4 linked regions of the Homo sapiens genome follow. The protein of the gene in region 4 purifies or fractionates together with the protein of the main gene of each other region. This does not show direct contact. Each region holds a gene or a part of one and is shown on either strand. Other genes may lie near its edges.

Region 1 (7,041 bases), on a different chromosome or scaffold from region 4:
GAAACCAGCATGAGGTATGGTTAAAGGTATCCGTTGGGGAGGGAGGGGGTCCCTGGGACGCCCCCCTCCCCTCAGCCCACCCTTGACAAGGGTGGCAAGACATTCAGGGTATACAACTAAAAGATGGGTAAGACTGTGAATAAAGCAAACTTGAGTAGGGGAGGGAGGCTGAAGGATCCCCCCTCAGGGGAGACCCTGTACTGTGTAAACGAAGCCTGTCCAGTTCTCAGGGGACAATACTGATGGCAGCCAAACTGGGCAAGGATGCAGTGTGGGGGCGGAGGGGGCATGACCTCTATTCAAGTTCTGTGTCTTGGCCCCTGGCTGAGGTATTGAGTGTGAGGAAGGGAACACTGGGCTGCAGGAGTGGGTCCAACTGTCCAGGAGGCTGCACTAGGAGATGGGTGGACAGAGCACTTAAAGGGACCAGGGCCAAATTCAATGCTACATTTAGAGAGAAAACTGCCCCCTCTTCACTCCAGCCCAGTTTGGCTTTTGGGGTGCGACTTTAGAAATCTTATCAGTGCAGCCCCCAGCTCAATCCCATCTTTCCTCCCTGCTGGGAAGGCAGGGACCAAGCCCCAGTACCTATTCATCTCTCTCTAGGTCAGAGCTTCTTCCTCACACTGGAGGGGAAGCCTGGGTCCCGAGTAGCCACGGTCCCTTGTCGGCCCTGCCCCTCCTACCATCTTTGGCTTCAGATCAGGAGTGACTGGGGCAGTGGGTACTCTTGGACATAACGGAAGGTGGAGGCAGATAGGGAGCACAGATAAACTATGGGCTTGGCGGCACAGGAGGAAGAACATGGTCCCTCCCTCCATATACATGCAAACACATGCCTGAAACACAGTGGACATACTAGGGCTGTGGTTTTGAAATGGGCAGGAAATTAATTTGTTTCTTCCCCTAAAGGATAAAACGCTTACTTAAAAATTCATGACAAGCCTCAAAGTTCAAGGGAAGGAGAGCCAGGGCAGGAATGACCACAGGCTCTGCCCTCCCAAAAGAAGATAAAAGAAAGAAGCAAGGTTAAAGTGCGTGGTTAGGGGCCAGGCTAGGAGTGGGAGGGAATGGGGAGGGGGCAGGCTGTGGGGGCAGAACCAGCCCTTGATTTGCATATGAGGAGCCAGGGGAGAGTGCAGGATTGGGGCCCAGGTACAGTAGTTGCTGCTTCAAGTGTTTTGCATTTGAACTTTAGGGGTGATAGGGTACAGAAGTGGGGAAAAAGCTCCAGGCCCCAGTGCTAAATATCCTCCCCCCTCATCCTCTAGCTGCCCCTGAAGGGGGGAGGGGGACACCCCCAGAGTGCTCACACAGTACCAGAAATTAAGGCTTCTCACTGCTGCGGGGATGGAGGGACCGGCCGAGCAGGGAGGCAGTGATGGGTATGGAAGAAGAGGGGATCTGCCTGGCAGTAGGGGCAGGGGAGAAGGGGGACACAGAGAGGAGTCCCCAGGGAAGAGTCGGGGGAGCTGGCAGCAGAAAGAGGGAACCAAGAGATGGAGTCAAAGAGTGGGGGAGCCAGGCATTTAGCAATCATTTTGGGACACTTGGCAGAAGGGGTCGCCCTGGGGGTACCAAGGGCCTGGGGTGCTCCCTGTCAGTCCCAGACCCCTGCCAGGCCAAGATGGTGTGGCAAAGGGGTGAGCAGCTGCTCCCCAGGGCTTCCTTCCCCTCCGCCCCCTCCACCCAGTCGTGTTCTCCTTTAAAGTGCCCTAAATGTTTAGACTTTTTCTAAATAAATAGAATTAGATATCAAGCCACCGGCGGGGGAGGGACACTGGAGGGGGCTACTCAGAGTAGCAGCCATCTAACCCAATGGCGCCGGGCCGCTCCTGGCTGTAGGGGCAGGAGGCCCCATGGGGCAGGGCGCCGCAGCCACCCACCGTCTTGGCGGCTGCAATGCTGCAGTTCTTGAGCAGGCTGAAGCTGAAAGGACTGACGGCGTCCTTGGGTGGGAAAGGCTTCATGGTGGAAAGGATCAAGGCCAGGCAGTCTGCCACATCTTTGTTGGGGGCACAGGCCAGTGCTGGGGTGTGACCTGCAGGGCCAAGGGGGAGAACTGAGGCATAGAGTCCTGTATCCTAGCCAGCCTCCCCCAAGCCCTGAAGTCTCTTCTCTGTGGAGGGAGCCAAGGCAGGCAGGTACCCAGCAGCGGCAGAATCCAAGGGTGACGAGGGCCCAGGAAGGCTGACAGGCAGATTCTCTAAGTACGGGTTAAAGGGCGGGCATGGGAGTCAAAGCCTAGGGTGTGGAGTCCTCCTGACCCTGCAGGCTCCCCTCTGAGACTCCAGAGTACTGGTGTGGGCTCCCTGCTCTGAAGAGTTCCCTTGGGAAGAAAATCCCATGTATAGCAAGATTAAGAAGTCACCTCCTGAAGAATGTCCCTGACCCCAAACCCAAGAGAGGCATGGGGCCCCAGACCCCACCCACCTTCTTCATCCACAGCCAGCACTGTGGCCCCATGACTCAGCAGGGCCTGTACCACAGAAGCTAGACCATTCCGGGCAGCAATGTGGAGTGGCCTTGGAAAAAAGGAAAAAGAAGGAGCTTGATGCTAAGCTGCCCTTCCACCTCCAGACAGGGTGGCAAGGGTGCTGAACAAATACAATGGGCTCCAGAGAGCCTCTGAACAGCGGCCACTCTTTCATCACCCACTGGCCTCCCCCAGCCAGGAGCCCCCTTCCCCAGGCACTCACATCTGCAGCGCACTGTTGGTAGCATTGATAAGGCCAAGGTCTTGGGTTTCTGCCAGGATCATGAGGGCACATTTCTCATGGCCCTGAGGGAGGGGAACAGAGAGTGGAGACTTGTGAAGTAGAAATGTGGCAGGGTGCAGGGCAGGAGTTGGGGAGAGTAACAGGAGGACAAACAGCTGCCCAACCAGTCGGATAGGCTGGACAATCCTCACTTCTGCCCCAGTCCCCTCTGCAACCGAGACTTACCTCTCTTCATCAAGCTCTGCCCCTTATGCAGTCCCCCAATCACTTCAGGTAAGTACCTTGCTACAAGCCAAGTGGAGGGCCGTGTTCTTGTTCTCATCCAACACAGTAAGGTCTGCCTTCCCTCGATACAGCAGAAATTCTACGAGAGAAATGTGATAGAGGGACTGACCCCTCCCTCCAGAGCAGTAGCCATCCTGGCTCTCCACTTTGCATCCCGTCTGCAGATGGCGAGACATCCAAAGACAACCCTCTTGCTTTCTGAACCCCAGCCCCAGCCAGCCTCCACAGGCAGGGCTGACCCATCCTGCAAATGCCCCAGGGGAGCTCCTCCCTTCCACAAGTGGCCCCTACACACCCACAGCAGCGGTCTGCCCGTTCTCAGCCGCCGTCATGAGCGCAGTGCGGCCAGTGTGGTCAGTGGCGTTCACCTCAGCTTGATGCTGCAGCAGCATCCGGAGCCCAGAGACATTGTCCGCGAAGGCAGCGGCGTGAAGGGGGGTCCTGTAAGGCAGGGATCAGGGTAGATTAAAATAGGGAAGAGTATACTGCCCAAGCAGAAAGGGGAAGCCAGAGGCAACTGGGATTCTTCCCAAGTCTTCCATCACTCACCGTCCTTTGGCATCTCGGCTGTTCACAATCTTGGCACCCAGAGCTCCCAGTAGCATCTCTGTGGTGCTGTCTTGGTTATTAATCCTAGAGGAAGAGGGAGGAGGGGTCATCAGGAAGGACAAGGGAAGTAGACTACCTGTCCTAAGCTCAAGTCATGGGCCCTCGCGAGAAGGGCTGATGCAGCAGAAGGGACTTACACTGCACAGTGCAAAGGAGTGAAGGGGTTTCCTTCCAGGTACGAAAACGGGCTGTGTTCAAGTAACAACTCCAGACAATCTTCATGTCCTGGGCACGAGGAAGGAAGAGTAGTGATGGAGAAAAACGGCAAGGTTCCCTGTCTGTCCTGTGTCTTGACACTCCATTCCACTTCCAGATTCAGATCAACCCAGGTCCCCCCCAACAACCCACCTGTCCCCCTCTACACACACTCCAACACATGCTCCTGTGCCTGTGGAGGCCCCAGTCTAGTACCAGTGTAGGAGGCCCAGTGCATGGGCGAGTATCCGCTGTAATCCACCCCGGCATCCAGGGGATCTGTGGAAAGGGCAGCCTGCAGCAGGGTCCGCAGTACTGCAGTGTGGCCACAGGCTGAGGCCAGGTGAATGGGCGTGCGGCCCTTAAAGTCTCGGCACAGCACAAATGCGTCGTGGTCCAGCAGGGCAGCCAGGCAGTCCTCACAGCCAGTCACTGCCTGTGAGTAACATGGGGGTGTGAGGGGGATGAAAAGCTCCTCCTTTTCCACTGGCCTGTTGCTGGAGTCTGGCTCAGGAGTAAGAACCACTTCCAGGGCTCCAATCCTTGTCTTTTTTTTTTTTTTTTTTTTTTTGGAGTCGGAGTCTTGCTCTGTCGCCCAGGCTGGAGTGCAGTGGCATAATCTCGGCTCACTGCAACCTCTGCCTCCCCGGTTCAAGCGATTCTCCTGCCTCAGCCTCCCAAGTAGCTGGGATTACAGGCAGGTGCCACCATGCCCGGCCAATTTTTTTGTATTTTTAGTAGAGACAGGGTTTCACCACGTTAGCCAGGATGGTCTTGATCTCCTCACCTCGTGATCCGCCTGCCTCGGCCTCCCAAAGTGCTGGGATTACAGGCATGAGCCACTGGCCTCAATCCTTGTCTTTACAACAATAATTCTTTCTTTTTTTGAGACGGAGTCTCACTCTGTCACCCAGGCTGGAGTGCAATGGTGCGATCTTGGCTCACTGCAACCTCTGCCTCCCAGGTTCCAGCAATTCTCCTGTCTCAGCCTCCCAAGTAGCTGGGATTATAGGCATGCACCACCATGCCCAATTAATTTTTGTATTTTTAGTAGAGGCGAAGTTTCACCATGTTGGCCAGGCTGGTCTCAAACTCCTGACTTCAGGTGATCTGCCCGCCTTGGCCTTCCAAAGTGCTGGGATTACAGACGTGAGCCACCATGCCCGGCCCTTTACAACAACAATTCTAAGTATTAGGGACCCACATCTCCCTCCTTGACTCTCTCTATGCCAGCAGACAATCAGGATACTAAGAGTTAATACTGGAGCTCTGGAGTTAATACTGGAAAGACTAAATGGAGAGAAGGAGACTAAGGGATCAAAAAATCTTATGGGAGGAGGAGGCAGCTTAGGACAGGTGGTCACGGAAGAGGATCTAGGTTGTGGCGACATTATGCGATGGGTTGGGGCCAGCAGGGTATCCCAGGTAGAGTCTGGGTGGTGAGCACTCAGTTGTACGTGATTACAAAGCACAGATATTGGCCAGGCACAGTGGCTCACGCCTGTAATCCCAACCCTTTGGGAGGCCAAGGCGGGTGGATCTCATCATCAGGAGATTGAGACTACCCTGGCTAACACGGTGAAACCCTGTCTCTACTAAAAATACAAAAATTAGCCAGGCGTGGTGGCAGGCGCCTGTAATCCCAGCTACTCGGGAGGCTGAGGCAGGAGAATTGCTTGAACCCAGGAGGCGGAGGTTGCAGTGAGCCGAGATCACGCCACTGCACTCCAGCCTGGGTGACAGAGCGAGACTCTATCTCAATAATAATAATAATAATAATAATAATAATAATAATAATAATAATAATAATAATAAACAAAGCACAGATATCAGGGAAATCAGCTGGGGACGTCAGGAACTCATCCTGGAGCAAGCACAAAGCTCAATAAAATCCTGGGCACAGCGTGGGTCTGGTGGCTCATGCCTGTAATCCCAGCACTTCGGGAGGCCAAGGTGGGGGGATCACTTGAACCCAGGAGTTCAAGACCAGCTTGGGCAAGATGGTAAGACCCCCATATCTACAAAAAATACAAAAATTAGCTGGGCATGATGGCATGTGCCTACAGTTTCAGCTACTTAGGAGGCTGAGGTGCGAGAATCACCTGAGCCCAGGAAGTCAAGGCTGCAGTGAGCTGTGATAGTGTCACTGCACTCCAACCTGGGCAATGGGAGTGAGACCCTGTCTCAAAAAAAAAAAAAAAAAAGAAAAAGAAAAAAGACGGCACAAAATCCTGGCTTGCCTCCTAGACAATTGGATTCCCTACTGCTGGTGAGTCCCATGCTCCCACACTGAGGCCCATGTGCAAACAATCCCCCCTAGAAGCTCACTCACCCCGCGGTGGAGGGCAGTGCGGCCCCGGAGGTCAGCAGCATCAGCTGTGGATCCTTTCTCTAGCAGCAGATGTACACAGTCCACATGGCCATTCATGATGGCCAGCATCAGTGGGGTCCTACAGAAGGGCAGGAGGAGGAGTGAGGATCCCGCAAGGACTGGAAAACCTGCACCCCACCCTGGCCCACACTCACTGTCCATAGGCATCCATGACATCTGTGATGTCAGCTCGTTCCCCACTGTCGATCAGCAAGTGCAGGGAGTCAGTGTGGCCAGAGGCAGCTAGGGGAAAGGGACCCCGTGTCAGGGCAGGGCCAGGAGGAAGAAGGGAGGCAAGGTCAAGCCTAAAGGACTTGGGGTCAATGTTACAGAAAGACCTGGGCCAGGGAGAAATCTCTGAGGATAGGAAGCTATGAATCAGGGCTTGAAGTCTCCATTCTCCTCACCCTACTCCACTTTCCAGCCCCATTCCCATCCAGGAGGGATCTGGCATGGCAAGGGTAGGGCAGCAGCCTAAAGTGGGCACTAACCAGCAGCGTGCAGGGGTGTCCACTTGCGCTTGCGCTCCTTGATGAGGGCAGAGGCGCCGTGGGCTGTAAGCACCTCCACACACTCAGTAGAGCCGCGCTCCGTGGCCAGGAAGAGTGCGGTCCGGCCCTTGTGGTCCCTTACGTCCAGATTCACCAGCGTCTCCGCCAGCGTCTTCAAGGCTTCACAGTGACCGTTGTAGGCCTGGCAAGGTGCAGGCAACCAGTGCACACAGCTCGGGACCTTCCCTGCTCCTCCCTTCCCCTTCTCTGCTCTTGGGGTCCCTGGGAAGCTCAAGGTCTTAGTCCTTGACAAGCTCCTTGGGCCCCTTAAGGCTTCCTACCCTGCACTGTGCTTATCCCCTCTCCCACA
Region 2 (7,041 bases), on a different chromosome or scaffold from region 4:
GCTCACACCTATAACCCCATCACTTTGGGAGGCTGAGGCGGGCGGATCACCCGAGGTGAAAGCCCGTCTCTAAAAAAAAAAAAAAAAAAAAAAAAATTAGCCGGGCTTGGTGGTGCACGCCTGTAATCCCAGCTACTTGGGAGGCTGAGGCGGAAGAATTGCTTGAACCCGAGAGGCGGAGGTTGCAGTAAGCCACTACACCCGAGCCTGGGTGACAGAGTGAGACGCTGTCTCAAAAAAAAAAAATCAAAACCCACCAAAAACAAAACAAAACAAAGCTTGGAGTACAACTAAGAAAAATGTGCTCAATTTTAAGTATGTAGTTTGAGAAACATATATAGTTACAACACTACCAGCAAAATCAAGACAGAACATTTTCATCAACTGAAGATATGCCCTCCGGCTCCTCTGCAGGCGATCTCCTGGCCCCACCCCACTGGCAACCACTGAACTGGTTGTCACTTTAATTTTTTCTTTTCTAGAATTCATATAAATGGAACCACAGAGTATATAGTCTTTTGTGTCTTTAAAGCTTTTGAGATTCACCGATATTCTTCTTCTTCTTCTTTGTTTTTTTGAGATGGAGTCTTGCTCTGTCGCCCAGGCTGGAGTGCAGTGGCACGATCTCGGCTCACTGTAAGCTTGGCCTCCTGGGTTCACACCATTCTCTTGCCTCAGCCTCCAGAGTGGCTGGGACTACAGGAGCCCGCCACCACGCGCGGCTAACACCGATATTATTTGTGTGGCAGTAATTTGTTCCTTTTTACTTTCTTTTTTTGAGACAGGGTCTCATTCTCTTACCCAGGCTGTAGTGCAGTGGTTCCATCTTGGCTCACTGCAGCCTCCGTCTCCCAGATTTGAATGATTCTCCTGCCTTAGCCACCCTAGTACCTGGGATTACAGGCTTGTGCTACCACACCCGGCTAATTTTTGTATTTTTACTAGAGACAGGTTTTTGCCATGTTGCCCAGGCTGGTCTCAAACTCCTGAGCTCAAGCGATCCACCCGCGTTGGCCTCCCAAAGTGCTGGGATTACAGGTGTGAGCCACCAAGACTGGCCCTTTTTATTGTTAAACAGTATAGTATTTCACTGCATAGACACAACACAGTTTGCATATCCATTCATCAGTTGATGGACATTTGGGTTGTTTCTAGTTTTTGGCTACTGTGCACTAAGCTGCTGTAAACATTTGTGTACAAGTCTTTGTGTGGCCATCTGATTTCATTGTTTTAGTGGAATATCTAGGTAGCAGAACTGCTGAGACATGGGGCATGTGCATGTTTAACTTTATAAGAAACTGCCTGGCCAGGCGTGATGGCTCACACTTGTAATCACAGCACTTTGGGAGGCCGAGGCAGGTGGATCACATGAGGTCAGAAGTTCAAGACCAGCCTGGCCAACATGGTGAAACCCTGTCTCTACTAAAAATCTGAAAAATAGGCTGGCTGCAGTGGCTCATGCCTATAATCCCAGCACTTTGGGAGGCCGAAGTGGGCAAATCACGAGGTCAGGAGTTCGAGACCAGCCTGGCCAACATGGTGAAACCCCTGTCTCTACTAAAAATACAAAAAATTAGCCGGGCATGGTGGCAGGTGCCTGTAATCCCAGCTACCCGGGAGGCTGAGGCAAGAGAATTGCTTGAACCTGGGAGGCGGAGATTGCAGTGAGCCAAGATCATGCCACTGTACTCCAGCCCGGGTGACAGAGTGAGACTCCATCTAAAAAAAAAAAAAAAGTAAAAATATTAGCTGGGCGTGGTGGCACATGCCTGTAATCCCAGCTACTTGGAAGGCTGAGGCAGGAGAATTGCTTGAACCTGGGAGGCGGAGGTTGCAGTGAGCAGATATCATGCCACTGTACTCCAGCCTGAGCAACAAGAGTGAAATTCCGCCTCAAAAAGAAAGAAAAGAAAAGGAAAAAAGAAAAGAAAAAAAGAAACTGTCCAATTGTTTTTCAAAGTATATACCATTTGAGAAGCCTTGTTCCTCATAAATATCATAATGTTCCCTCATTTTGAAATGAGGGAAAGAACTACGCCAGGCACAGTGGCTCATGCCTGTAATCCCAGTACTTTGGGAGGCTGAGGCGGGAGGATCACTTGAGGAATTCGAGACCAGCCTGGGTAACAGTGAGACCCAGTCTCCAGAAAGGAAAAAAAAAAAAAAAAAGAAGTAGGTATATTCACAAGGCAGACATAGCAGTTAAAATAAATCAACTGATCTCTTTTTATCAACATGGATAGATTTTACAAACAATGGCCTCTGAAATAAGCAAACAGCAAAACAATACATGTGGCACTGACACAGGAGGTGCCTGTGGCGAGCTAGGGAAGGAGTGAAGGGCTGAGGAAAGGAACAAGAAGGACTTCAACTTTGCCCTACTGTTTTTATTTTATAAAGTCCTCAAATCAAAATACAAAATGAAACCAGAAAACCCTACAAAGTAAAAATGACAAAATGTGAACATCTGTTAATTCTGGTTGATGGGTTATTACATTATTCTGCTTTTCTATATTTTCTAGACTTTTTATTTTACTTTTTTAGAAAAGGAAATAGTGGCTGGGCGTGGTGGCGCACGCCTGTAATCACAGCTCTTAGGAGTCTGAGGCGGGAGAATCACTTGAATCTGGGAGGTGGCGGCTGCAGTGAGCCAAGATCATGCCACTGCACTCCAGCTTCAAACAACTAAAAAAAACAAAACAAAAAAGGGAATACTGATCTAATACTAACTTTAAAGTTAAAGGGCTTTGATTAGTCTAAAGGGATCTTTCCAGGTGGCGTGGCCATGCCTTAGCCTTTTCTGAAACACAGTCCAGTATTCTGCTTGTTTCCCCGTTACAATAGACATGGATTAAGGAAGTCTTACCACTGAGTGATTAATGTCAAATGCTGGTACAGATGGCTTACCTGTTTGGCAGGTGTGTTATTTGTAGCAGATGGGTACTTGATGTTCTGCAGCTTCTGAAAGGCTTCCTGATACTGCTCAGGGGTGTCAAGGCTGAAGATGCTCTTCCACACTGCAGTCACCCTCTCCACGAAAGGCCCTTCGGTGCCCGTGTTCCAAGTGTGGTAAGAGGAGGAGCTTTTGCCCTCTGAAAGCTGCTTTTCCTCCAGATGCCTGGACAGTAGCTCCAGAAGGCAAAACACCAATCTCTGACCCTGGAACACGACAACAAGGAAGAGGAACTGTTATACAGGGAAAGCACTGGATGATCTCGAGAGCTCTCCCGTGTCCTTCAAAGTATTTCCCTTTGTATCTGCAGCAACCAAAGCACATTAGTGAGCTACCTGCCCCATATGAGTCATGCATGAAAAGAGACAAAAGGGGCGATCTGACAGACACTTCCCAGGTCCCTTTTGGGGGAAATCTATCCTTAGAGCTCAAGAAACCATTTTTATAACACAGAATCCCAACTGTAGCACTACCCACAATGATTTAAGCCACACACAGACCAGCCACTTAAGCCTTGTAGCCTAGTTTGAGGAAAAGAAGGGCTGGGCTCATCAGGTTCTTTCTCCCTGACCAAACTTTGGACTCAGGAATAAAAGCATAATGGGCCAAAGGTGCTGGAATAGACAAGCTTTGCAGATCCAAGAGCTGGGACAGGCATTAGGAGCCATGTCCAAATAGGTTTAATAGAGGAAGCTGGCTGGGAGAGAAGAAAACAGAAGCACAGAGAAGGCCTAGAAAATCTACTTTCACTAGATTTTTAGTTGCCATGAGATTCCTTGTGTACTCCTATAACAATATCTTCTCAGTTAAGCTTGCAAGAGTCTCTGTTGCACAAAACCAAAATAGCCCTTATCAGAATATTTAGCATATGCTTATTAGGTTTTTTTGCTTTGTTAAGGATGCTGTTTAAGAGAAAAATAAAATGCTAAACAGTCATTCTGGAAACTTTTTTTGATGGTGGATAAATTAAAATCTTTCTAGACTTGGTCATTTTATAAATAATGCCCAGTGGCATTATCTTTTAGGGTGTCCTATTTTCACCTCCATTTTTATTCTGCTGTTCCTAGAAAGCTACCTCCCCATGTACCACGTTCCTTGGGCTCTAAATATTCAGCTAAAAACCATCTGTAGGCCCTGTACTCTGTTAGAGAATGAAGAACTTAAAAAACCTCTTGTTAGTATCTCACAAAGTTATCTAAAGTGAATCAAATGTTTACATGTTTCAGAAACTAGGTAAGTGTGCCAATGCTTTAATCTGTTTTGATGTGTCAAAAAGGCAGTGGTATGTTACTGATTTTTAATCAGATGGGAACAAAAAAATTTAAGAAATAAAGAGATTTCCATTTTCCCACACTTTTCTCTTTTTTTTCTGAAGAGTCTCACTCTGTCACGTAGGCTGCAGTGCAGTGACACAATCTTGGTTCATTGCAACCTCTGCCTCCTGGGTTCAAGCAATTCTCCTGCCTTAGCCTCTCAAGTAGCCAAATTACAGATGTGTGCCACCATGCCTGGCTAATTTTTTTATTTTTAGTAGAGACAAGATTTCGCCATGTTGGCCAGGCTGGTCTTGAACTCCTAATCTCAAGCGATCTGCTGCATCTGGCCCAGTTTTTTTTCCATAGCTTACAGTTAAGAGGGGCATTTACAGGTAGAGTTCCATGATTTCTGTTAGAGGCCAACCATTCTCTCTTCAAGGAAGACAGTGCTGATAACATCAATGAAGAAACCCTAGACTGCCAACCCAAGGCCTGGGCTGACTAAGGTGTTTTTTTTTGTGTTTTTTTTTTTTTTTTTGAGACAGAGTCCCACTATGTTGCCCAGGCTGGATCTTGGCTCGCTGCAACCTCCGCCTTCCGGGTTCAAGTGATTCTCCTGCCTCAGCCTCCCAAGTAAGCTAGGATTACAGAAGCGTGCCACCACGCTCGGCTAATTTTTGTATTTTTAGTTGAAACGGGGTTTCACCATGTTGTCCAGGCTTGTCTCAAACTCCTGACCTCAAGTGATCTGCCTGCCTCGGCCTCCCAAAGTGCTGGGATTACAGGCATGAGCCACTGTGCCCGGCTCACAGGTGTTTTGTACAAACAGATAAGCAATGGGAATTACTGTGAATGACCATATTATCTCTTACTCTGAATACGGCAACTAACAAGTCATAGTACTTCAGTGGGATAGCATGGCCAGGGCTTGCTGGGCCTGCCAAATTGGCACAGCTTGTGCAACTGGGTTATTAACTTGGATTTGACTAGAAAAGGATTTGGGACACTTCCCTCTTGTATACTAGGAGATGAAATAACAGACTGACCTGTAGACTTTCATGCAGCTGCAGGGCTTCCTGGGCTCCCACCCAGTTGTTGGCCAGAAGCAGCTCTTGGGCACATCTGAGAGCCAGGGAAGCAGACAACTCATCCTCTCCTACGATGGCAGCCAACTCTGCAGCCGTTCTAAGTGATGCCGCATCCCCCTTTTTGGCCAAAACTTTGGCTGCATCATAAGCACAAGTGGCCCCTAAATAGCTATAATATGAATAAAAATGTGAAGAAAATGTCACAAACAGATTTTTATTCCCATTCCTAGAGGATGGAATCATTTCTTTCTATCTACTTTGCTGCATGTGCCTTCCTGTGGTCCCAGGTATGTCACTGCCCCGGTTGTTCCTGTGAAGGCTGAGGCCAACACAACTCAGCAGAGTGTATGAGAAACAATATCATATAGGTTAAGGACATAAGGAAAATGAGAGGGAATGACTCCTCTGTTGGGTTCAATCCAGCATGGGTTGAGGTTCCTTTATTTGATGTTATAAGAGACCATTAGAAAAATGCATAATTTCTTAATCTGCTGCTGAGGTTTTTCTTGAATAGTTATAGTGATTTATATAAATAAATCAGGAAGTAGTTCCTGATGAGTCTTATGAAACTAAGTTGAATATACATATCTTTTAAATAATTCCTTGCTGCTTTACCTCCACCTCTAAACTTATTACTTGTATTCTTGTCCTCCCCTTCCTGGCAGAAGCTCTCCTATGTTGGAAGCATCCCTCCACTCCTCAGGCTTACCATTTGGCAGCTACAGCATAGTGGCCATCTCTTTCTAGGACGGTTCCCCAGCTGAGGTACAAGTCCTTCAGGACTGGGTCCTCCGGGCGCAGCCGGGCCTTGGCAATCGCAATAGCTTCCCTAAAGGCAAGAACAGACCCTTTAGCCAATCTGAAAAGGCTCCTCTGTGTATGGTCCTAGGAGGGGCTGTAAGACAGGACAAACTGTCCCTTTTGTGTTGTCTTATTGTTCCAACTTCCTTTAAAAACTGCACTTGCATTATATAGACAAATTAGAAACATATGCTGCATTCGTTTCTTCACTTAGATCAGCAGTTCTTAAATTGTGGTCTGTGGATTCCTAGGGGGTCCTCAAGAACCTTTCAGAGGGTTCATGAGGTTAAAACTATTTTCGTAACAATGCTAAGAGTCAGTTATGTGCTTTTTTATTAAAAAAAAAAAAATGTGTTGACATTTGCACTGATTGTGCCAAAGCAGTGATTGGGAAACCTGGCATCTAAGAAGGAAGGCGGTGGCTCTTACAGTGGAAAAAAAGGAAGAATGCCCTTAATGAAGCAGTAAAAATTACAAATTTTACTAAATCCGTCAAGTCCAAAACACTTTAATATTCTGTGTGACAAATGGGAAGAACATTTTGTGTTCTCTGCTGCATTCCAAAGTAGAATGGTTGTCTCTAGGTAACACCTGTATGAACAAATTACAAGCTAAACTGGCTGCTTTTTCATAGAACCTTCTTTCTTCTAAAAAAAAAAAAAATGACTAACATAAATAACAGTTATTCAGTGTTGGGTATTTGGCAGATGTTTTTCTCAAAAATGAACAAAGTAGGCCTATCACTTCATTAAAAACAACCAACAGTATTTGTTACTAATGATAAAATGCGAGTTTTCTAGCAAAAATTAGAATTTTAGAAAACTTGTACCTACCACTTGTGTGCCTGAGTTTCCCATAAGTTAGAATTTTCTGATGAGACTGATGGTGATAGTAAGGAATGTGGTATTTTTGGGTATTTTATAATAAGATATGTTAACATTTG
Region 3 (3,251 bases), on a different chromosome or scaffold from region 4:
TCCTGTCAGCATATTATTGTGTGACAGAGACATCAGAATAAATAGCATGAAGAAAGGAATGAGGTCACATTAAGGAAAATAAGGAAAATAATGTATAATTGTGCTTTTTGGATTGTGGCCAAATTATTTTATTTTTAAACCATAGATTTTTATTTGAAGCTATTTTCATTTAATTGTATGCTTGAAGTTGGGATAAAAAATTTTTTTTTAACTTGAGCTTTGAGTTCTAAAATTCTGGTACTAATCAGACTTCTTCTGTAAAATGCTTTGTGTTTCTGTTTACTCCTTTGATTATCTGAAATGGTACTGTTTTTTTTAAGTCTCTTAAAGGTTTTTTCAGGGATAGCTAACTAAAACTATTTTTTGGATGTTAAACTATTTTTTGGCAATAACCATTTTTGATGAACAGTCTAATAAATTCATGTTAGTGTGTGTGTTAAACCTCCTGTACCCTTAACCTCCACCCCTAAATTCCTTAGGTTGAACAAGTACAGTGATTTGTCATAGAAAGAAACTATTTGTTAAAAACTCTAGGAAAGTGAGTGCTAATTTTAGATTCCTGCCTTTCACCTTTCTTTTCCTAGAATGAAATTAAAGCTCTGTCTGAGGAAAGAACTGCCATTAAAGAGCAGCTGGATTCATCTAATAGTACCATTGCCATTTTACAAACTGAGAAAGACAAACTAGAGTTGGAAATTACAGATTCTAAAAAAGAACAAGATGATCTCTTGGTGCTCTTGGCCGATCAAGATCAGAAAATACTGTCATTGAAGAATAAACTCAAGGATCTTGGTCATCCAGTAAGATTAAAATGTCTCCAAAAATGATTTGTATTATGTTTTAGTATAATGCATTTAAAAGATTTTTAATGTAACATGGAAAAGTTGTGCCTGTATTATAGGAATGGATATGTGGGTTCATGAATATGGTACCATCTATACTGTTTTCACTGTTTTCATTGAATTTACTTAATACACAGATTAGGTTCAGTTTTCAGTACTTACAGACTATTTTCTTTTGGACCGTAAGCCTAGAAAGTGAATTGATTTGATTGGTAACAAGACTGTAGTCACCCAAGCATGTCATTATCTTTTGCCATGTTTGTTTCAGATTTGTGTGTAAAGAGGTGTAGCCATTTATCAGCAAAGTTAACTGATATATCTCATTCATATTAGAAATGACAGAGAGCCTTGGCATCAAATCAAAGAAATCAGATGGCTTATATTCTACTGTAGTTACTAGAATACAAAATTTGTCTGGGCACAGTGCTCACACCTGTAATCCTAGCACTTTGGGGGGCTGAGGTGGGCAGATTACCTGAGGTCAGGGGTTCGAGACCAGCCTGGCCAACATGGTGAAACCCCATCTCTACTAAAAATACAAAAATTAGCAGGGCGCTTGGTGGCAGGCACCTGTAATCCCAGCTACTCGGGAGGCTGAGACAGGATAATCGCTTGAACCTGGCAGGCAGAGGTTGCAGTGAGCCGAGATCGCACCATTGCACTCCAGCCTGGGTAACGAGCAAAACTCCATCTCAGAAAAAAAAAAAATTATCAGTAGTATATATTGTTAAATGTTGAATGTGACATGAACAGATTTTCACAATATTAAATACGTCTTTTTCCTCTAGGTTGAAGAAGAGGATGAACTTGAATCTGGAGACCAAGAGGATGAGGATGATGAAAGTGAAGATCCTGGCAAGGATCTAGATCATATCTAGTTTTCAAATCTCTAGGAACAATAGAGATTATATCATAACTCTGAAGATGGACTCTAAACTTTGGTTTACCTCCATGGAAAATAAAGATTTAGAAACCAGGTGGAAAACATTCACTATTAAGACTATTGATATATTTTTGTAATGTTGCCACCCATGTTGAAAACCTTAAAACTGAATTTATGTAGAACACACATCTTTTATTTAAATCCATCTGAACTGTCCCAAAATGTAATTTGCAAAGAGCTTCAAACACCAAAAATATACCATTTTAAGGCATGTGGTGACAATGCTATTTGCCTTAGTTCATTCGTTGTTTACTTTGCAAAATTTGTGACTTTTAAGTACTAACACATTTGATTGAATGTGTATTGAATTGGAATTATTATTTCTAAATTCAGCATTTGAGTCCTTAGTTGATGATTTTCTTTTAAAGAAATTAGTTTATTTAAAAGCAAGATAGCCTGGGTTGGGAGTTAGTGCATATCATCAGCCCTCCATCTAATGTGATTGCTAAGATGTGCAGGATAGGACAGCTTAGAATGAGTGCCTTGACACCTACATATGGCTGCATTCCATACCTCAGTGAAGAAGCCGAAGGATGCTGACACACAGTGATGTGGAGGGCATTCCGGAGAAACTTTTGCAACAGTGTATTAATGTGATTGGTTTTCTTTTTGTTTTAAGCTAAACATCTAAAACAAATTTCAAGTTAACAGTTCATACAACTCAGATTTAGTAGTATTGTTTATCATAAAACATATTATGTTCCTAGTTTTAAAAAGACCCAAAGTATGATTAATATAATTTATTGGCATTTTTGCTGAATAGGTTTAAGTCAGATAATAGATTTTAAAAAAGCAAATGAGGCAATGTGTCAAAATTTAATGTTTCATAATAAAAATAGATACGTTGACTTAATCCTTGGTCATGGTTCCCTTTGTTTACATCTTAAAAGTATTTTATTCTTAATAAAAGATGAGGCAAGTGAAAATGATGAGGCGACTTTTCTTATTAGGGGTACACAACTATAACTGAATGTTAAAAACAATCTTCTTTAAAACCAATGATTATGATTCCCTAAGATTGGAGGGGGTTAGAAGTACAGAAGTAGAAGAGGTTGGAAAAGGGTTTGGACGTTTTTAAATTCAGCACTGGAGTTCTTGGCAATGATTTCCTGTTGAAGAAGTGGGTTTACTTAAAGACAAGATAGCCTGGGCTAGAAAATAACGTATTTATCTGCCTTCTGGGGTCAGGAATAGGACACAACTTTTGAAAGAGAAGGAAGGTCACTGTCTTGATGAAGGAGACAGCTGTGTGTTACAGAGCACTCGTGAATGCTGCACTGTGCCCATGTTCCACCACTACTGCCATCCTAAGGTGGCACTTGCCATCAGAGAAAGAACTATATTACTGTCACCAGACCAGCTCAGATAGGTGAGGTCTTCCTAAAGTTGACAACCACATAATGAACCATGAGTTAATGACTACCTTTCAGGCTAACGTACGGTTAAAGAAAAATGGATCAGGAGTG
Region 4 (5,211 bases):
TGCGCACTGTGCAGCTGTACGGCCCCACCAACTTTGCCCCCGTGGTCACCCACGTGGCCAGGTGAGTGCCGCTGCCACCGCCTCCAGGCACTCACAAGGCCTCTGTTTCCACACCAGCTCTGCCTCTGGGTGGTGGGAGGGGGTTTCTCTTCCCACGCACTTGCCTTTCAGGGAGCCCTGACCCTGAAGAGATTCCCCCAAGAGCTGTCACCCTCCAAAGTGTTCAGGGTCCTTGTTTAGGGGGGAACATGCCCAGAGGTCCCGCAGACAGACCTGAGCCCACACCTGCCCCACCCAGGAATGCAGCGGCCGTGCAGGATGGCTCCCAGTACTCGGTGCTGCTCATCATTACTGATGGGGTCATCTCGGACATGGCGCAGACCAAGGAGGCCATTGTCAACGTAAGCAAGGAGTGTGCGGTGGGGGAGGCGGTTTGAGGAGTGTCTTCCTCCCCGTTAGGGGAACCCTGGGGATGTGCCTACCTCCTTGACCTTAGGGAAATGCTTGGAGATGACTTGGGCGTGGCTTCTCATTTCCCTGCCTCACTGGGCCCCACTGCCCTCATCCACCTTCTGGCCTCTGGCTGCAGAGTCCGGTGCTGGATAGTGGATTCTAGCGGGTGGAAGGGGTGCCCAGATCATGAGAGATCTGGCTGGTGAGCTCTGTTCCCACCTCTTAGTCACGCTCTGGTCTACTCCCTCCAGACCCCAATGACTCCCTCATTAACCCATCTCTAGGACCGCTTCCCCCTTTCCCAGGCCAGCCTGGCCAGGTCAAAGGAGTGGGAGGGGAGGCTCAGAGTTGGGGAAGCTCAGGAACATGGCTCCCCAAGCCGGTGGTCTCCCTGTAAGAGGGGATGGGGGTGACTCACCAAAGCAGACCTATGACCCATTCCCCCTGCCACCCTCCCTCTCTCCTCCAGGCGCAGCCTGGTTTCCTTTGCTCTTTATCTCTGAGTGCCCTCCCTCTCCCTACCCCCTTTTCTGTGTTTCTCTGTCTCTCCATGTTCACTCTCCCATTTCTTTCCTGCCCACCCCTTCCTGTCCTACCCCTGATTTCTCCTTCCTTTTAACTGGGTCCCAATTGGGTCCAACCTTTCCCTGCCCCCCATGCTGTCTCCCAGGCTGCCAAGCTCCCCATGTCCATCATTATCGTCGGCGTGGGCCAGGCAGAGTTCGACGGTGAGTCCAGCTGCTGCCTTCCCCTCCTTTCCTTCCCTAGCCACGCAACCCTGCCCCCACCCCAGATGTTTCCCCAGAGGCTGTGGTCCCCTGGGAATGACCCCTCCCAAAAGAGTGAGAGCTCCCGCCTGGGCGTGTGTGTCTGGGTGAGTGTGCAGGGTGTGGGACGCATTTGTTTGCTCAGGGAAGGGTGTGTCAGGTCTGGGTGTGCACCCACACCCACATCCCAAGGCTGTGGGGAGGAGGCCCCAAGTCACTTCTTTCTCCTCCAGCCCTGGGAGTCTGGGGAGGGTGGTGAACCAAAGCACTGGGCTCAAAGTCAGAGGCTCACCTGATCGGGCTCCTCCTGGCCCCTGGCCTCAGTTTCCTCATCTCTAACACGGGGCATGGGCCAGTGGTCTCGGCCCTGGATTGGCCTGGGATGAAAGGACAAGTCCACTCTCCTGCTAGGGCCAGGGGTCCACCGTTAATCTCACCCCGCCCCATGACACTCCTCCCCTCACAGCCATGGTGGAGCTGGATGGCGACGACGTGCGGATCTCCTCCCGGGGGAAGCTGGCTGAACGCGACATCGTCCAGGTGAAGCCCAGGCCTTGCCTGCCCCATGGGAAATTCAAGAGCCCCTCTAGCCAGGCGGACCTCACACCCCCTTTGGGGGCTTCCCTGGTGAAGGGCCCAGAAGGGAGGCACTGGGAGCCCCAAAGTGGCCCAGCCACCACCGAAGGGAGTAGGAGTCAGTCCTCGGCCATGCTGTGGTCTGGGCTGGGCCCCCCTCTGTCACATCTGGGACACACTCCTAACATTGCGGGTGCCCAGCCAGAGGCCAGAACCCTCTGCCAGCCCTTCCTCAGCCTCCAGGCCTCTGTGGTCAGCCTCGTTCTGGTTTTTTTCTGCCCCTTGAAGGCTGAGGCAGTGTCTTTAGTGTTGCTGCAGCCTTCTCCAAGAATAGGCATTGCTCGGTTAACTGAATCAATGTAAGCATCTCCATGAACGGTGCAAATATAATGAGCAGAAAGACCTTTGTCCTCAGGGAATTCCCATGCAGTCTCACGTGGAAGAATGCACCCTCCGCAAGCACTTCCCCCACTCATCCCCTGCAGAGGAGGCCCTAGTGCTTAGGAGATGCAGAAGACAAAGCTGACATCCTGCATACCCCCTTGGTTTAAAAATTGGGGCCCAGTATCCCAGGTGTGGAGACCAAACATAGGGGGCTGGAAACCAGAGCAAGACAACCTGGGAGGTGGGACCGGCCCATGCTAAGGCCTGGAGGCAGGAGTGAGCCAGAAGAGGCGCTCAGGATGGAGGGCACCCCCGGGAAGAAGCCAGATGGGCCTGGCATTAGGCATTGGCCAGATTAGCCCCAGAGAGAAAAGGAACGAAGAGAGGCCAGAGAGAGAGGGCTCTGCTGGACAGGTCGGGGGAAACCCAGGAGGGCACGTGCCCCAGAAGTCAGGGATTCAGTTGGCATTTCGGAAGCACCTACTCAGAGCCTGTGCTTAGTGCCGAGGTGGAGAAATCGTGTTCAGTGGTGTGTCCTGGTGTGGAATAGGGCTCAGTTTTTGTCGAGTGAATGAAAGAATAGTGACTATGACTATAGTTACTGACTGCCCAAACCCAGGGAGTTGAGGGATACAGTCCCTCAGGTAATTCAGAAAGGTGGGGGGATTGAGTCAAGTGAGCAGAGGCTGGGAGGGGGGTGGGGATGCAACCCCAGGCCTGGAGATTTTGGGGGCCAGGGTCCCACAGGAGGCACTGCCTGACCCTGCCCTCCCACTTGCCAGTTTGTACCCTTCCGGGACTACGTGGACCGCACAGGCAACCACGTGCTGAGCATGGCCCGCCTGGCCCGAGACGTGCTGGCAGAGATCCCTGACCAACTGGTGTCCTACATGAAGGCACAGGGCATTCGCCCGCGTCCCCCACCCGCAGCACCAACCCACTCGCCCTCGCAGTCCCCAGCCCGCACGCCCCCTGCGTCCCCCCTGCACACGCACATCTGAACCTGGTCTCAGCAGGCAGGTGGCTGGGGCCTGGGAGAGGCCAGGTGAATGGGAGGCCAGGGCCCCAGACTCCCCGAAGTTGGCCTGCCCGGCCTTTGGGACATCTGTGTGCCTGGGAGGCTGCCAGGGGGTGGGGCTTCTGAAGACCCCTCCTCAATTTCTTGGCCTCACTTATTGCCCAAACCCAGGGAGTTAGGGGGGTACGGGTGAAAGAGGGGTACACAGGGACCCAGCCCTTCTCTTCTTCCCCAATACCTGGCTCTAACCCAGCCAGGAAGGTGTAAACAATAAGGGTGATTGGGGTCCCTGTCGCCCACCCCCGGCAATCCTATTTGCTTACCTGTCACCCTGAAGCCTGGGCTTGGCCTCCTCCAGCCCCCCATCTCCGTCCCATCCTCCCATGGTGTCTACTCCTGTCCCTGAGCCCCGCCCTGTGGTCTATCCTGTGCCCGATTTCCAGTGAACCCCATGAAGCTGATGGGTTTGCAGGAAGGCCTGAACATGTGCACCCTCCCAGGGACACTGGATGCGCTGGGAGCCCCGGGGACCCCATGGGGTGCTGTAATCATGGACCGTAGGCCATGTGATGGGCCTGAAGTGGAGGCTGCTCAGCACAGAGCCCTTTCTGGTGCCTCTCGAACTCAGTACGATGCAAGTTCTAGACACACAGATGGCCTGTGGAGGCCTCTCCCTGGTGTGGGCCCACAGGTACTTCCATGGTTGACTCCTGGCTTCAGGAATCCCTTCCTCCCTCCAGAGGCTTCCCAGGGCCCTCGGTGCCCACGCCTCTGCCCATCTGGAGGCCTGAGTAAGGAGTGGCTCAGCCCCACGTTCCCACACTGCTCCTGCTCTTTGCCCTGTATCCCATGAGGCTAGGAGACAGGAGTCCTGGGTTTGAGCCCTGCCTCCCCCCACTGCCTAATGTGGGAACCCAAGCAAGGCCCTTCTACCTTTTGGGCCTCAGTTTCCATGTCTGTACCACAAGAGGGTTGACCAGATGGCCCCAGGTTTTCCTTTAGGTCTGACATCCTGAGGGTCATTCATCCCATGCCCAGTTCCCCCCATCCTACTCCTAACAGATGTGACCCTACTTGAGGCCGCCTTGGCTTTTGGGTCACCCTGTCTCATCCCATCACCCCAAACATACCCTAGTCCTTCAGCCTGGGGCTCTGGCATCTGAGCCCGAGCTCCTGCCCCTGCTGTGGGAAAGGTGGGGAAGAAGGGGATCTCCCTCCCGGGCCCACCCAGCTGCCCAGCCTTTGCCCACTCGGGGAGCAGATCATGCATGCCAATCCCTGTTGCCGCATGGAGCTCCTCAGCCCACTGACCTCTCCGTGCCTGGTGCAGGCCAGGCCCCCGTCTTCCGCCTGCCTCTGCTTCCCCGTCATGCATGGTGGTGGTGTTTCTACGGTGTCTGGTTCTGTGCCCGTCTCTGAGACAGTCTCTGTGTGGAATTTGCCTTAAACTGAAGTAAATTTGGTTCTTTTAGTAAAGCACGAAGTTTTTCTTTCTTCTCTGAAAAATAGCACTGACGTTGCTGCTTGACAGGGTCCAGTTCTCCTCTGTGGCTTCCTTCAATTGTTTGCTTCAGTGAGATTTACAATCAAAGGCCACGTGCCACGCTCTGTGCTAGGCATTGAGGATGCAGCCATGAACAAAGCACAGACCCTGTCCCTGCACAGGGCTTACAACACACACACAGATAATATGGGAGAGACCCAGCAAACACATCAACAAATAGGCTAGTAACATCATTTCAGGTGGTAGCAAGAGTTCTAAAGACACATGAGGGAGAAGGAGGGTGATGTTTTCGATGAGGTGGTCAGAGAGGGCCTCTCAGAGGAGGTCATGGTTGAGGTGAGCCCCCAGGAAGTAAGACAGGGAGCCACGCTGATATCTGGGGAAGGGAGCTCTAAGTAGAGGGACCAGCAGGCGCAAAGGCCCTGTGGTAGGAGCTTCCTTGGTGCATTTGCAGGAGAGCGAGGCCAGTGTGGCTGGAGCTGAGTGCAGGAAGGGAAAGTGCTAGAGAT

Evidence for each region.
Region 1: the proteins of CPNE5 (region 4) and ANKRD52 purify together in Homo sapiens (affinity purification with mass spectrometry; 2 studies listed by BioGRID and IntAct, with this or other methods). This does not show direct contact.
Region 2: the proteins of CPNE5 (region 4) and GEMIN5 purify together in Homo sapiens (affinity purification with mass spectrometry; 2 studies listed by BioGRID and IntAct, with this or other methods). This does not show direct contact.
Region 3: the proteins of CPNE5 (region 4) and USO1 purify together in Homo sapiens (affinity purification with mass spectrometry; 2 studies listed by BioGRID and IntAct, with this or other methods). This does not show direct contact.

The regions. Positions count from the first base shown.
Region 1 is NC_000012.12:56,241,352-56,248,392, forward strand, and holds part of ANKRD52 (serine/threonine-protein phosphatase 6 regulatory ankyrin repeat subunit C), read right to left. Parts: intron 6,874-7,041; coding exon 6,672-6,873; intron 6,424-6,671; coding exon 6,336-6,423; intron 6,260-6,335; coding exon 6,142-6,259; intron 4,246-6,141; coding exon 4,026-4,245; intron 3,840-4,025; coding exon 3,752-3,839; intron 3,639-3,751; coding exon 3,555-3,638; intron 3,447-3,554; coding exon 3,301-3,446; intron 3,085-3,300; coding exon 3,002-3,084; intron 2,783-3,001; coding exon 2,700-2,782; intron 2,526-2,699; coding exon 2,434-2,525; intron 2,042-2,433; coding exon 1,791-2,041; 3' UTR 1-1,790. UniProt on the Homo sapiens protein: Putative regulatory subunit of protein phosphatase 6 (PP6) that may be involved in the recognition of phosphoprotein substrates.
Region 2 is NC_000005.10:154,893,185-154,900,225, forward strand, and holds part of GEMIN5 (gem-associated protein 5), read right to left. Parts: intron 6,127-7,041; coding exon 6,007-6,126; intron 5,467-6,006; coding exon 5,256-5,466; intron 3,160-5,255; coding exon 2,908-3,159; intron 1-2,907. UniProt on the Homo sapiens protein: The SMN complex catalyzes the assembly of small nuclear ribonucleoproteins (snRNPs), the building blocks of the spliceosome, and thereby plays an important role in the splicing of cellular pre-mRNAs.
Region 3 is NC_000004.12:75,811,576-75,814,826, forward strand, and holds the end of USO1 (general vesicular transport factor p115), read left to right. Parts: intron 1-584; coding exon 585-800; intron 801-1,630; coding exon 1,631-1,720; 3' UTR 1,721-2,711; downstream 2,712-3,251. UniProt on the Homo sapiens protein: General vesicular transport factor required for intercisternal transport in the Golgi stack; it is required for transcytotic fusion and/or subsequent binding of the vesicles to the target membrane.
Region 4 is NC_000006.12:36,740,238-36,745,448, reverse strand, and holds the end of CPNE5 (copine-5), read left to right. Parts: coding exon 1-61; intron 62-298; coding exon 299-401; intron 402-922; coding exon of another isoform or gene 923-1,072; exon of another isoform or gene 1,073-1,117; intron 1,118-1,123; coding exon 1,124-1,181; coding exon of another isoform or gene 1,182-1,327; intron 1,328-1,686; coding exon 1,687-1,760; coding exon of another isoform or gene 1,761-2,159; exon of another isoform or gene 2,160-2,198; intron 2,199-2,962; coding exon 2,963-3,181; 3' UTR 3,182-3,698; coding exon of another isoform or gene 3,699-3,746; 3' UTR 3,747-4,674; downstream 4,675-5,211. UniProt on the Homo sapiens protein: Probable calcium-dependent phospholipid-binding protein that may play a role in calcium-mediated intracellular processes. Plays a role in dendrite formation by melanocytes.